3 linked regions of the Homo sapiens genome follow. The protein of the gene in region 2 purifies or fractionates together with the protein of the main gene of each other region. This does not show direct contact. Each region holds a gene or a part of one and is shown on either strand. Other genes may lie near its edges. The genes, in order: NUDT9, CCDC32 and STON2.

What was found.
Region 1: the proteins of CCDC32 (region 2) and NUDT9 purify together in Homo sapiens (affinity purification with mass spectrometry; one large-scale study listed by BioGRID and IntAct). This does not show direct contact.
Region 3: the proteins of CCDC32 (region 2) and STON2 purify together in Homo sapiens (affinity purification with mass spectrometry; one large-scale study listed by BioGRID and IntAct). This does not show direct contact.

The regions. Positions count from the first base shown.
Region 1 is NC_000004.12:87,421,068-87,425,452, reverse strand, and holds the start of NUDT9 (ADP-ribose pyrophosphatase, mitochondrial isoform a precursor), read right to left. Parts: upstream 2,881-4,385; 5' UTR 2,548-2,880; coding exon 2,441-2,547; intron 1-2,440.
Region 2 is NC_000015.10:40,554,965-40,558,614, forward strand, and holds part of CCDC32 (coiled-coil domain-containing protein 32), read right to left. Parts: intron 2,427-3,650; coding exon of another isoform or gene 2,409-2,426; coding exon 2,252-2,408; intron 1-2,251. UniProt on the Homo sapiens protein: Regulates clathrin-mediated endocytsois of cargos such as transferrin probably through the association and modulation of adaptor protein complex 2 (AP-2). Has a role in ciliogenesis. Required for proper cephalic and left/right axis development.
Region 3 is NC_000014.9:81,390,299-81,393,948, reverse strand, and holds part of STON2 (stonin-2), read left to right. Parts: intron 1-3,650. UniProt on the Homo sapiens protein: Adapter protein involved in endocytic machinery. Involved in the synaptic vesicle recycling. May facilitate clathrin-coated vesicle uncoating.

The sequences.
Region 1 (4,385 bases), on a different chromosome or scaffold from region 2:
ACCGCACTCCAGCCTTGGCAACGAGAGCAAGACTCCATCTCAAAAAAAAAAAAAAAAAAAAGGAAAAGAACACTAGGGACACGGTCTTGCTGTGCCACTCAGGCTGGAATGCAGTGATGCGATCATAGCTTACCACAGCCTCAAACTCAACTCCTGAGCTCAAGCAATCCTACTGATCACTTAGTAGTCTCTGAGCCTACTCTGATCCTACTGATAGTGAGGACTACACATGCATGCCACCAGGCCCAGTTTTTTTTTTTTAGAGACAAGGGTCTTGCTAAGTTGCCTAGACTGGTCTCAAACTCCTGGCCTCACACGATCCTCCTGCCTCAGCCTTCCAAAGCACTGGGATTACAGGTGTTAGCCACTGTGCCTGGCCATAAAATTCTTTTTTTGTTTTTCTTGAGACATTGTATCACTCTGTCACCCAGAATGGAATGCAGTGGCATGATCTCAGCTCACTGCAACCTCCACCTCCCCGGTTCAAGCTATTCTGCCACATTAGTTACCAGGTACTTGGCACATTTGTTAACTGTTGGCTTTTTCTTTCAAGTCAGTACAGTCTCTGGTTCTGGATATACCTGCCTCATGTAGGGTTCCCAGAGTTACAAAAACGAAGAATAACTGTCAAGCAACTTTACACTGTTCTGCTGGCATCTAACAAAAAGAGCATTAGAGATTTCCAGAGAGCACACACGTGTATTCCTTCCTTCCTCAAATCCCACTAAAAGAAGATAAAGATAGATAAAGGGAAATAAAATCCGTACCAGGAGAAGGAATAAATGCCACCAGTGAATGACAGATGGTAACCAACTTCAGGAAAATGAAAAGTTGTTGGAATATTGACCTACAAACCAGAGTAGGACAAAGTAAAATAAGAATATGCACCAAGGCCGGGCGCGGTGGCTCACGCCTGTAATCCCAGCACTTTGGGAGGCCGAGACGGGCGGATCACGAGGTCAAGAGTTCAAGACCAGATCAGCCTAACCAAGATGGTGAAACCCTGTCTCTACTAAAAATACAAAAAAAATTAGCCGGGCGTGCGCGCGCCAGTAATCTCAGCTACTCAAGAGGCTGAGGCAGAAGAATCGCTTGAACCCAGGAGGCGGAAGTTGCAGTGAGCCGAGATCGCGCCACTGCGCTCCAGCCTGGGCGACAGAGCGAAACTCCTTCTCAAAAAAAAAAAAAAAAAAAAAAACGCATTAGGGAGAAATGCTATTCCTACAAGCTGAGCCGAGCTAGAGGTTTCAAGCTTGAAGTCAGTGGGCCCAAGGATCATAAACTGGCAGCGCGACAATAACCATGGAAATCACTCAGTCCTCCTCCCTCCCCAATCTCCAAGCAAAAAGTCCAAAATAGTTATGTTTGTCTCCAAGATAAAATCAAAAGTTTTTTAGAAATGAAGGGGTAGGACCCCTACTGTGAATACTGGTGTTAAGAGTACACAGCAGAAACTTAGGCTTAATAATTTTACAGTTCACACGGAGGAAATAAACAGCTATACTCAGCAGAGAAGTTGCTCCACCACTACTGCAAAGCCTGAAGCAAAAGGCAGGTTCCCAGTCTACCCATCTGGTACCTGCTCACATGCCCTCAACTGAAACCTTCCTATCTAGGCAACCTGGTACAGAGCCAAAAGTCAATTAGCGACCCATGTACTGAAAACAAGACCTATTACTCATATTAATCAAAATATAGACAGATAACCAGTGCCCATCACATGTTCGAGAAAAAGCAACAGAAGGAAACAGGACCAAAAAGACACAGAACAATTGACCAACAGTAAGTAAATTATTTAGGAAATAGATTTTTCTAATTATCATCTTTGTAGATTCAAGACTTTTAATATCTATAAAATAAGAAAAGGCTGCTGCACCTAGGACCCTGTGTTTACTAACTCAAAGAATAAAAACTGGAGAAGGGAAGAACAGAAGGAGGCAGTGTAAGACACCATAAATCCCTAAATTTAACCACAATAGACAAATTATTAAAAAAAAGGAGGTAGATAGTAAATATAATATATTGTCCACCCTGGAAAGGGGACAGGGGGAATAGTGATTTTACTTTTCATTTTACATTTTCAAGTTGTTTTAACTATGTACATGTATTAATACTAATAATAATGTTTTAAGTATTAACCATAAAAAAATGGCACGGGACACCACCACCCCAAACAATTGCTATTTAAACTCTCTCGTGATACTAACAATGATTTACAGAGAATGGCAAATTTCAAAATCAGAAGTCAAGAAGGGTCCCTGCCACTCGTTTTCCTCAAAAGGCAGATAAAATATTTTAGAGCCTTTTTGAAAACTTGTATATGACTATAAAAACCCGAGAGGCAAAGCAAAGCCTACAGAATACGCCAGAAAAAAAAGCTGCTTCCCACCCCCAACTCAAGGTCTAGGGCAAAGGAGCCGGTAGTAGGAGGGTGGAATACCTGAACGCCTGGATGCCGCGGCAGCGCGAGGACCTGATAGTCACAGAGGCCAAGGCCAGAGAGAGAGACACCGCGGCTAAAGCCTTTCCCAGGAGGCGTCCCGCCATGAGCGCCCCGAGGGCGGCTTTGCGATGCTAGGTCGCTCTTAGTTGGTGCCTCCGCCTCCCCACACCCCACAGCTCCGAGTCCCGGCCGCGGGTATCTGATGGGCACTAGGACCTGTCTGCCGTTGGGTTCCCGAACGGGAGTAGCTGTGCCTATCTATAAATCACAGATCAAGAGCCCTCCCACGATAAGAGTCCACCGCTTTCCCCAGTGCATCGAGAAAAATCCAGACCAGCACGTGACGCCGAAGCCTCCAGCGCCAGCTGCCTGGGGAAACCGCGGCCACGAACCTCGTAACTTTCTCTCTGCGTAATGGCGCTTTACGGCCGCGCCGCAAAGCAAAGGTCGTGCGTTGCCGGCTTGGTAGCGCCTTCCTTCTCCGACTTCCCAGACTTCCCAGTCTGCGCAGGCTTACTTGGGGACGCAGGGAACTACCAAGAAAGTGTCAGAGGAAAGGAAAGGTGAAACAGACGAGGAACTGGAACGGGAATAAGTGGGAAAGAAGCCAAGGGGTTTGAGAGAGACTTGCTGCCCTGGGTTTTTGGTTTTTGTTTTTTGAGACAAGAGTCTGGCTCTGTCGCCCAGGCTGCAGTGCAGGGGCGCGATTTCAGCTCATTGCCGCCTCAACCTCCTGGGCTTAAGCGAGTCTCTTGTCTCAGCCCCCGACGTAGCTGGGACTACAGGCACACACCGCCATACCTGGCTAATTTTTGTATGTTTTGTAGCGACAGATTTTTGCCATGTTGCCCAGGCTGGTCTCCAACTCTCAAGCTCAAATAATCCAACTGTTTGGGCCTCCCACAGTGCTGAGGTTACAGGCCTCAGCCAACGCGCCTGGCCCTGCTCTGGTTTTTTTAGGGAGTAAGTTGTTGCGGAAGGACGCAGGTCTTAGCCATATTTTTGAATAATACTTCGTTATGGGAATGAAACCGCCTTTGCAAAATTATGACTGATTTGGGAGGCCGAGGCGGGATCACTTGCAGTCAGGAGTTCAAGACCAGCCTGGCCAACGTGGTGAAACCTCGTCTCTACTAAAAATACAAAAATTAGCTGGGCATGGTGGTAAACGCGCCTGTAGTCCCAGCTGCTCAGGAGGATGAAGCAGGAGAATCGCTTGAACCCGGGAGGTGGAGGTTGCAGTGAGCCAACGTCGCACCACTGCACTCCACCCTGGGCGACAAGAGTGAAACTACGTATCAAAAAAAAAAAGAAAAAACCTCTGCTCCCTGAATGCTCAGGGAGACTGATTTGAGTAATAATAGAACTCCGGTCTCACACAGCTGGCTCTGCATGAATTACTCTTTCTCTATTGCAATTCCCCTGTCTTGATGAATCAGCTCTGTCTAGGAAGCGGGAAAGGTGAACCCCTTGGGCGGTTACAGCAAGAGGAGATAGTCCAGAGACTCAGCCCTCGTATCTTGAAGGGTTTCTTGGTTTTTTGTTTTTGTTTTCTTAACCAAGTTGTCTGCTCCAATTGCTGGATTTCATTCACAAGGCTTTGCTAGGACCAGTTGTGGCCCTTGGAAACTCGTGGAGGAGAAAAGCTGTGAAAATAGGCACACATGCTGGAGGAGGAACAGAGGGCAACACACATAATACTGGATAATAAACTTGAGAGGCAAAAATTAAACAAACCGACAAACAAAGTTGGAAACCCAGACTGTCCAAAGCAGCTTGTAATCAGGCTTACTTCATTTATATTAGCTTATTGATGTGGCAACTATTTGACTTTTACTTACATGATCCGCTGTTTCTGTGGTGTGGTTCCAATACACCGACGTTACAAAACTTTGACCATCTTAAAAGCCAGATTAATCGAATTTTAACAACCATTGTTCTG
Region 2 (3,650 bases):
GATAGTCGGATTTCTCAGCCCATTACTCCCTTGCCAAAAGCATACCACAAGGAGGATCACCTACCTGGCCCTCACATACGTGAAGACCTATACAACCCCATTGTAAAATGGCCTCTGTTTAAAAGATAAACTTTGAAGAACTAGTGTTTCCTGGTGTTTGTTCTGGATAATGATAGAAAGAAACATTCCCACAGATGTAGGCTCTGGGGAAAAATCTAAATGTCAGAGGGCAATGAGAGCGGCTGATTGACTCTAGTGCTCACAGCTCAGGGGAATCAGGTGTGACACAGCATTTAATCTTCATTTACCACACTTTTCATCAAATTGTTCAAATTATTTCCATAGAGAAGGGAAATCTACATTATTTTACATATTGATAAATACGTAGGAACATGCTGATCTGATTTCAGAGAAAGAGGATTTCTACTTGAAAATGACACAGGAGAAAGTTTTGTCTTTTCTTCTCAGAGCTGGAGAGAAGAGAGGTATTCAGGGGGACAGAATATAAGTAAATACCAAATTATCAGTGGGTCAGGAGTCTGCATCTTCAAATCTCCTATGTTTGGAGCAATTTAAGACTTAATTAGGTTGGACCTTTAGAGATAGAAAAGAGCAAAATGTATATAATTTCCTGAACCCTCAGAGGAGAGTTGGCCTGACCTTAGATGCTACGCTGATTTCTGAAGCATCTAGAGGCATGCTGATTAAGCATTTGAGATAATGTAAGTGAAAGTATTTTACACATTTGCAAGTAAATGTACCTATGAAGTTTTATTCACATACTGTCCTGATTTCGGCAGCAGTACTTCTTCTGATATGATGGGATTCTCAACACCAATGTCCATATGTTGGAAACTCAAGTTAAATCACATTCCCCTAAGATCTTTTGTTAAAATTCAATTTTTTACTCCCCCCCATTGATTTTTACTTTGAATAATTTCTTACCAAACTCTAAAATTCTGTAGGAAGGATAATATTAGTAACAGCCAACACTTCTATAGTGCTTACCATGTGCTAGGCATTGTTCTATACCCTTTACAAATAGTAACTCATTTAACCCTCATAACAACTTATGAGGTAAGAGCTGATTGCTCCCATTTCACAGATCAGGAAACTGAGGCACACATAGGTTACTTACCCAAGAACATACAACCAGTAAGTGGCAGAGCCGATTTCCTGAGTGTCGAGCCCCATTCCTGCTCATTGTGGCAGGGCAGCATGCCCTCTCTATCTTTCTGCATCTAAACTACTTGCAGGTACTGTTCAAGTCCTGCCTCCCTCTATGGCAAAACACCAAAGCCAGGAGGGAGCTCAGTGGCCTCTCAATTCCCAAAGCACATTCTGTCACTTCTACTCAACTGGCCCTTCTCTTATTAATGCCTGGTATTGTTAGGTATGTCTTTATATATATTTGTCATCTGCCCTCAAGTAGTTTTGAGGACAAAAACAAATGGGTTTAAAACTTCCTTACACCATTCCCTCCATGACACCAAGCACAGTGCTATCACACAGTGGATGCTTAATAAATTCATTAATTTAGTCTGCGTAAATTCATTGAGTGGCTACAATCTGACAAAAATTCTGTAAGGCAGGCCAGGTGCAGTGGCTCCCGCTTGTAATCCCAGCACTTTGTGAGGCCGAGGCAGGCAGATCACCTGAGGTCAGAAGTTTGAGACCAGCCTGGCCAACATGGTGAAACTCCATCTCTACTAAAAATACAAAAATTAGCCGGGTGTTGTGGCACACGCCTGTAGTCCCGGCTACTCAGGAAGCTGAGGCACAAGAATTGCTTGAACCCAGGAGGCAGAGATTGCAGTGAGCCGAGATCGTGCCACTGCACTCCAGCCTGGGCAACAGAGCGAGATTCCATCTCAAAAAAAAAAAAAAAAAATCTGTAAAGCAGTGGAAATTCAGAGGTAAGAAGAGATGAAGAGATAGTTCCAGAAAATAATCTCTCTGAGGAGTAAATGGTTTTTCCTTTTGTTACAGTAACATGGTTTCCAAACCTCATGAGAAAGAATTCAAGAACATGAGAGACTGATTAGTTACTACTTTCTCAAGTTCATTGCATACTTAAAAATGAACACAATGCTTTATCCTTAACTCTATTCAATCTGTGACCAACACGTAGCTGCAGTATTTGCCTTTTGGCAAAAAAGTCTGTTCTTAAAAATCTACTGCTGGGCTAAAAACAAATAGAACAACTACATAAAGGATGATTTCAGCTGGAACTAGACGGGGAATCGATTACCTCTCATCAGAATCAAGTCCATCCACAAAGAACTCTGAAGCTAACTTCTCCTGGAGGAACCGATCCCAGCATTCCTTCTTGGCTTGGGCCAGAGTTCGAAGCATGTCCTTGGAAGTCACTTCCTGATTTAAACCTTTGATTCTTCTTAGCTTCTTCTCTAGAGAGAGAAGTAGAGCTTAACAAGGAAAATGAGCATGACATGAAATTTTAACTAAATCTAAAACTCAAAATACTAACTTAAAAAATCTCTCACCGATGAGGACATCCACACTCCCTGCCAAAGAGGTCATTTTTTAAGGACAGATAAAAGGGAATTGAACATTCTTCCTTTTTCCTTCACAAAGTCCTCACCCTGCATTGTATCAAATAAATGTTTAACCCGAGAAAAGGGAAAAGCCATAGGTTCTCATAAATAAGTCAATGGCATGTTTTCTTTGAAATCACGTAAGCCCAGCAGGTATCTCTCTAAGGAATGCTTGTTTTCCCTGGTTTGACATGTGTATACTACTGTCTTTTTTCAACTCCTTGAAAATAATCTCTCTGAGGAGTAAGTGGTTTTTTCTTTTTGTTACAGTAACATGAAGTGGTTTCCAAATCTCATGAGAAAGAATTAGAGAAAATGATGAAAGATCCAACGGTTCATTAGATATTAAAATTGACTTGATGAGAACTCAATAAGAGACCTTTAAAATCTCTATGTGTGATTAAATTCTTAATAAAAAGAATCTCCCAACATTTTTTAAAGTTGCTCAACTTGTGGCCTAGATGTTGGAGTCTAATAAAAACAAATGTCTTCTAATCCCATGACAGTGCTCCATATGGCTTCTTGATGATAGAGGTTAAATTACTCTTGTTTGCATTTTAACTCTAATTGTTTAACAGATTTCCCCTTTCGAAGAATACAAGAAAGGACATCACCATTTACCGTCTGCCTTAATTTAGTTTGCCTTCAACTATAAGTACATAGGTTAATGATGGCATGGTGGGGTGGTGAACATCAAGCTTAGAACCAATAGAAACTATGATTTGCAGTTCTGTTTTCATTTCTAAAAAAGTCACATCAGCTAACACCCACTGATCAAAACAAATACCTTTTGTTCCTGTTATTACCACCATGAGCTCACCCATGTAAAAAAAACCTGCAGTTGATAAATGTTAAATATTTGCAGGGTTTGTTTTCTCCTTGAGGATATAAAAAGGGTTATCCATAGCATACATTTAAGTTTTTAATTATTGCTGTTATCAGTGGATTCTCTTTGATATAGGTTATTTAACAATAAAAACAATCTTCATATTGTCTGGCCTCAGTTGTCAAAGTGGAAGGTACTCTTTTGGGCCGGAAAAGGTCTTCCTCTCTCTAAGTATGCTGAGTCCCTGGTCAGGTGTGATTTCAATAGGG
Region 3 (3,650 bases), on a different chromosome or scaffold from region 2:
CAAAGTGCTGGGATTACAGGCGTGAGCCACTATGCCCAGCCTAAACATCAGATTTCTGCATGAATTGTCATTGAGTCATGACTCTCAGTGCAGCGTGGAAGAAGTGACAGGTCCAGACAGGCTTCCCTTACTGAACACCTAACACTGAGAAGGCTCTGGGCTAAGTGTTGATGCATGTAGGGAAAAGTTACGGAACACTGGGCAGTGAATGAGCACAGAAATAATGTTCCTTCTGCTTAATATGATACATTTACTGCATACTTATTGTCTCAGTTTCTGTGCTCAGTGCCTTAGCTACTTCATATCATGTACTCCTTACAACAATTGTATGAGGAAGGTATTAATATTAATCCATATTACACATGGTGGAGGAGACTCAGCCAGAAGTGGGCTTTGGGAATTCAACCAAGATTGTGTGCTAGGAAATGGCAGGAGAGCTTCCGCACCAGGCTGACCGGCCCCAAGGTCTTGGAGCAGCCTTCGGATGCCCTGTGCTCTCCTTCCGTTTGCCTCACTCTTCCTGCTGCTGCTGCTGCTGCTGCTCTAGTATCCTCTGCTCCCTCATTACCCAGGAGGCAGTGGGGGCAAGGAATGGAAGGTAAGTGATGGGTGGGGTGCTCTTTCTCCACTTTGCTGCCCTAAAATGGCCGTGCCTTCAGGTCATGGATTATATTCATGCCATTCAGATTCTTTCACATTTTATCTTTAGCCTCAAAGATTTCCTGATTGCTCAAAACTATTTATATGACAGTCAATTTGCTCAACTCTTCACTGATTTTTCCAAAACTAATTTTGAGATTAGTCATAATTATGTTGCCCCCATCTGACTGAGGATCTTATCTTGTGACTGACAATGCTTTTGATATATTGTGAAAGCTTTACCCTTTAAGGCAGCAATTCACAGTCTGGCCCATAGACCTTGCTGTCTCCTGAGACCCTTTCAAGGCGTCTTTGGGGTTAAAATCATTTTCATTCTAATTCTAAGATGTTATTTGCCTTTTCACTGCATTGACATTTGCATTGATGGTTAAAAAATAACAGCAGATGAAACTTTTGGCCATTGTCTACTCACAGTAAAACAAAATGTATATTTCACCCAATAATATCCTTGATGAGGCAGTAAAAATTATTAATTTCTTAAAATTGTGATTCTTGAGTATGTCTTTTTAACATTCTCTGTGACAGATTGGGAAAAAATACATGAAGCACTTTTGCTCCATATCAAATTGTAATAATTGTCTTGAAAAAAAAGTTTTTAAAAAAATATTTAAGAATTCAGTTTAAAAATTAAAGTTATTTTAAAATTATTTTTTAAAATCACATAATGCAAAAAATTCTTAATGAACAAAATATCAGTACTTTAAAGACAAGATTCAATTAACACTTTCATGACTATGCTACACTTGGCCCACCTGGACCTGGTGTTGCAGGAATTTTCCTAAAGTTCAGCTAAAGATGGGGTCCTTGTCCATCCCACAGCCATGAAAATTCAGGCTCACAGATGGTTTGAAGGGTAAGTAAAGCAGGGCTTTATTGGGTGAAAAGGAAAAAAGAGGGGAAACAGGGACTCTCAGCGAGGCCAGAGTTCATCTAGAGCACTTCCGGACCGCGCCCAAATCCCAGGTTCCACACAGGAAGAGGAGGGGCCAGGCTCTTCCCTGCTGCAAGTGGCACAAACTTCCGCAGCTCCACCCCAGTGCACAGGCCAGTTGGAGTTTTTCTGGGAACCCCCTCCCCTCTGGCTGTCTCACTGGTTCTAATAAAGCTTTATTTACAGAGATAGTCAACCTGTGAGCTGTAGTTTGCTGCTTTGATTTTGAGTTGATATTTTTAACATATTGCCTTAAAATGTTACTTTGATTACTGAGTTTTTTGGCACCCTCTTAAATTTTACCTCCAAGGCAAGTGTGTCACTTGCCTTAGCCTAATCTCAGCCCTGCATTGTCCTAAGAATTTTAGATGTATTAATATTACTAGAGAATAAATCAAGAAATGACAGTGTTCAAATGCATGAAAGCATAATTTTGAAAACTGCTCAAGTATGAATAATTCCATCTGTTCATATGTGTGAAAATTTAACTCAACCCTGTGGAGATGGAGTTTTCTACCTTAGGAGGGTCCTGTAGGATGGGTTCCCAGCAGACTTGATGCCCAGTCTGTAGGCAAGAAGCAGAAATAAACCATGTGGAGGGCCAGCCCCACCTCAAGAAGTGTTTCTAACCTGGAAACCCAAGGAGCATAGGGGACGGTGCACAGCATTAGAGTGGTAAAGAAAATGGTTCAATTCCAAATTTTCTGCCAATACCCAACTTGACCCATCAATGAACCTAAACTGAATCAAAAGCTGCAGAGTACATTCCTATTACCCAAACTAACCTCTCCCACATAAGCTAATTCCCTCTTGGGTTTCCTCCCATGGATTGTGTTTAACAATAAGGATAGAGTAATTGGCAGAGCTAAGGCCAATTACACAGGAGAGACTAGGCGTTAGCCCCCCACTCCTGCCCCCACATAATGGATAATGTAGACATTCCCCAAGTTACACAGTCATTCCATTCAGGAGGCTGTTGTGCAGCTCAGATTTTAATTTGAATCCAAAATGTTTGAATGCATGTGCTGTATATTGCAATAATACCACATATGTAACTGCAGGCATTATGCAGAAATAACACAGATGTTTGCAGCAAGTAGAGACAGTGTGAGACTTGCTGCAATCACTGCTACCTGCTCTGTTCTTCCAGTAATACTAAGCTGAGTAATGGCTCCCAAAGACATTAGGTTGTCCTCCCTGGAACCTATAAATATTATCATATTTGGGAAAAGGGTCTTTGTAGATGAGAGTAAGGATTTTGAGATGGGGAGATAATTCTGGATTATCTGTGGGCCTTAACTGCAATCACATGCATCCTTATGAAAGTGGCAGAGGGCGATTTTGCTTACACAGAAGAGAAGGCACTGTGAAGATGAAACAGAAAGAAATTTGAAAATGCTGATCTTAAAGATTTTAGTGATGAAGCCACAGCCAAGGAATGCCGGCAGCCACCAGAAGCTGCAAGATACAAGAAACAGATGCTTCCTTAAAGCCTCTGCGGGGAGTGCAGTTCTGCTGACATCTTGATTTTAGCACAGTGATTCTCATCTCAGACTCTGGCTTCCAGAACTGTGAGAGAATAAATTACTGTTGTTTTGAGATACCAAGTTTGTGGTAATTTGTTACAGCAGCCATAGGAAACTAATGTACTAAGTCTGTAAAATCTTAAAATGGAACCCTTTGCATAAGGCTGAGAATGAGTCAGTCTGAATTAGGGGAGCATCTGTAAATCTGTAATGATGCAGGACTTTTTGTTTGTTTGTTTGTTTGTTTGTTTTTTGTTTTGTTTTTTGAGACGGAGTCTCGCTCTGTTGCCCAGGCTCTGGAGTGCAGTGGCGCGATCCCAGCTCACGATGCAGGGTATTTCTTAAGGAGATGTGTGCATGTCAGTGTGCTTTGTCCCTAAACCTTACAGCTCCTTATAATTTACTCATTGAGTCACCAGATATTTACTAAGCACTTCCTCTGTATAGTTCTGCTAGGTGTGGATATTCAAAGACATAGCGCAGTGCTCAGAATTGAGCAGAAATCCACTGGGCTTCTTCCTGGATCCTCTAGT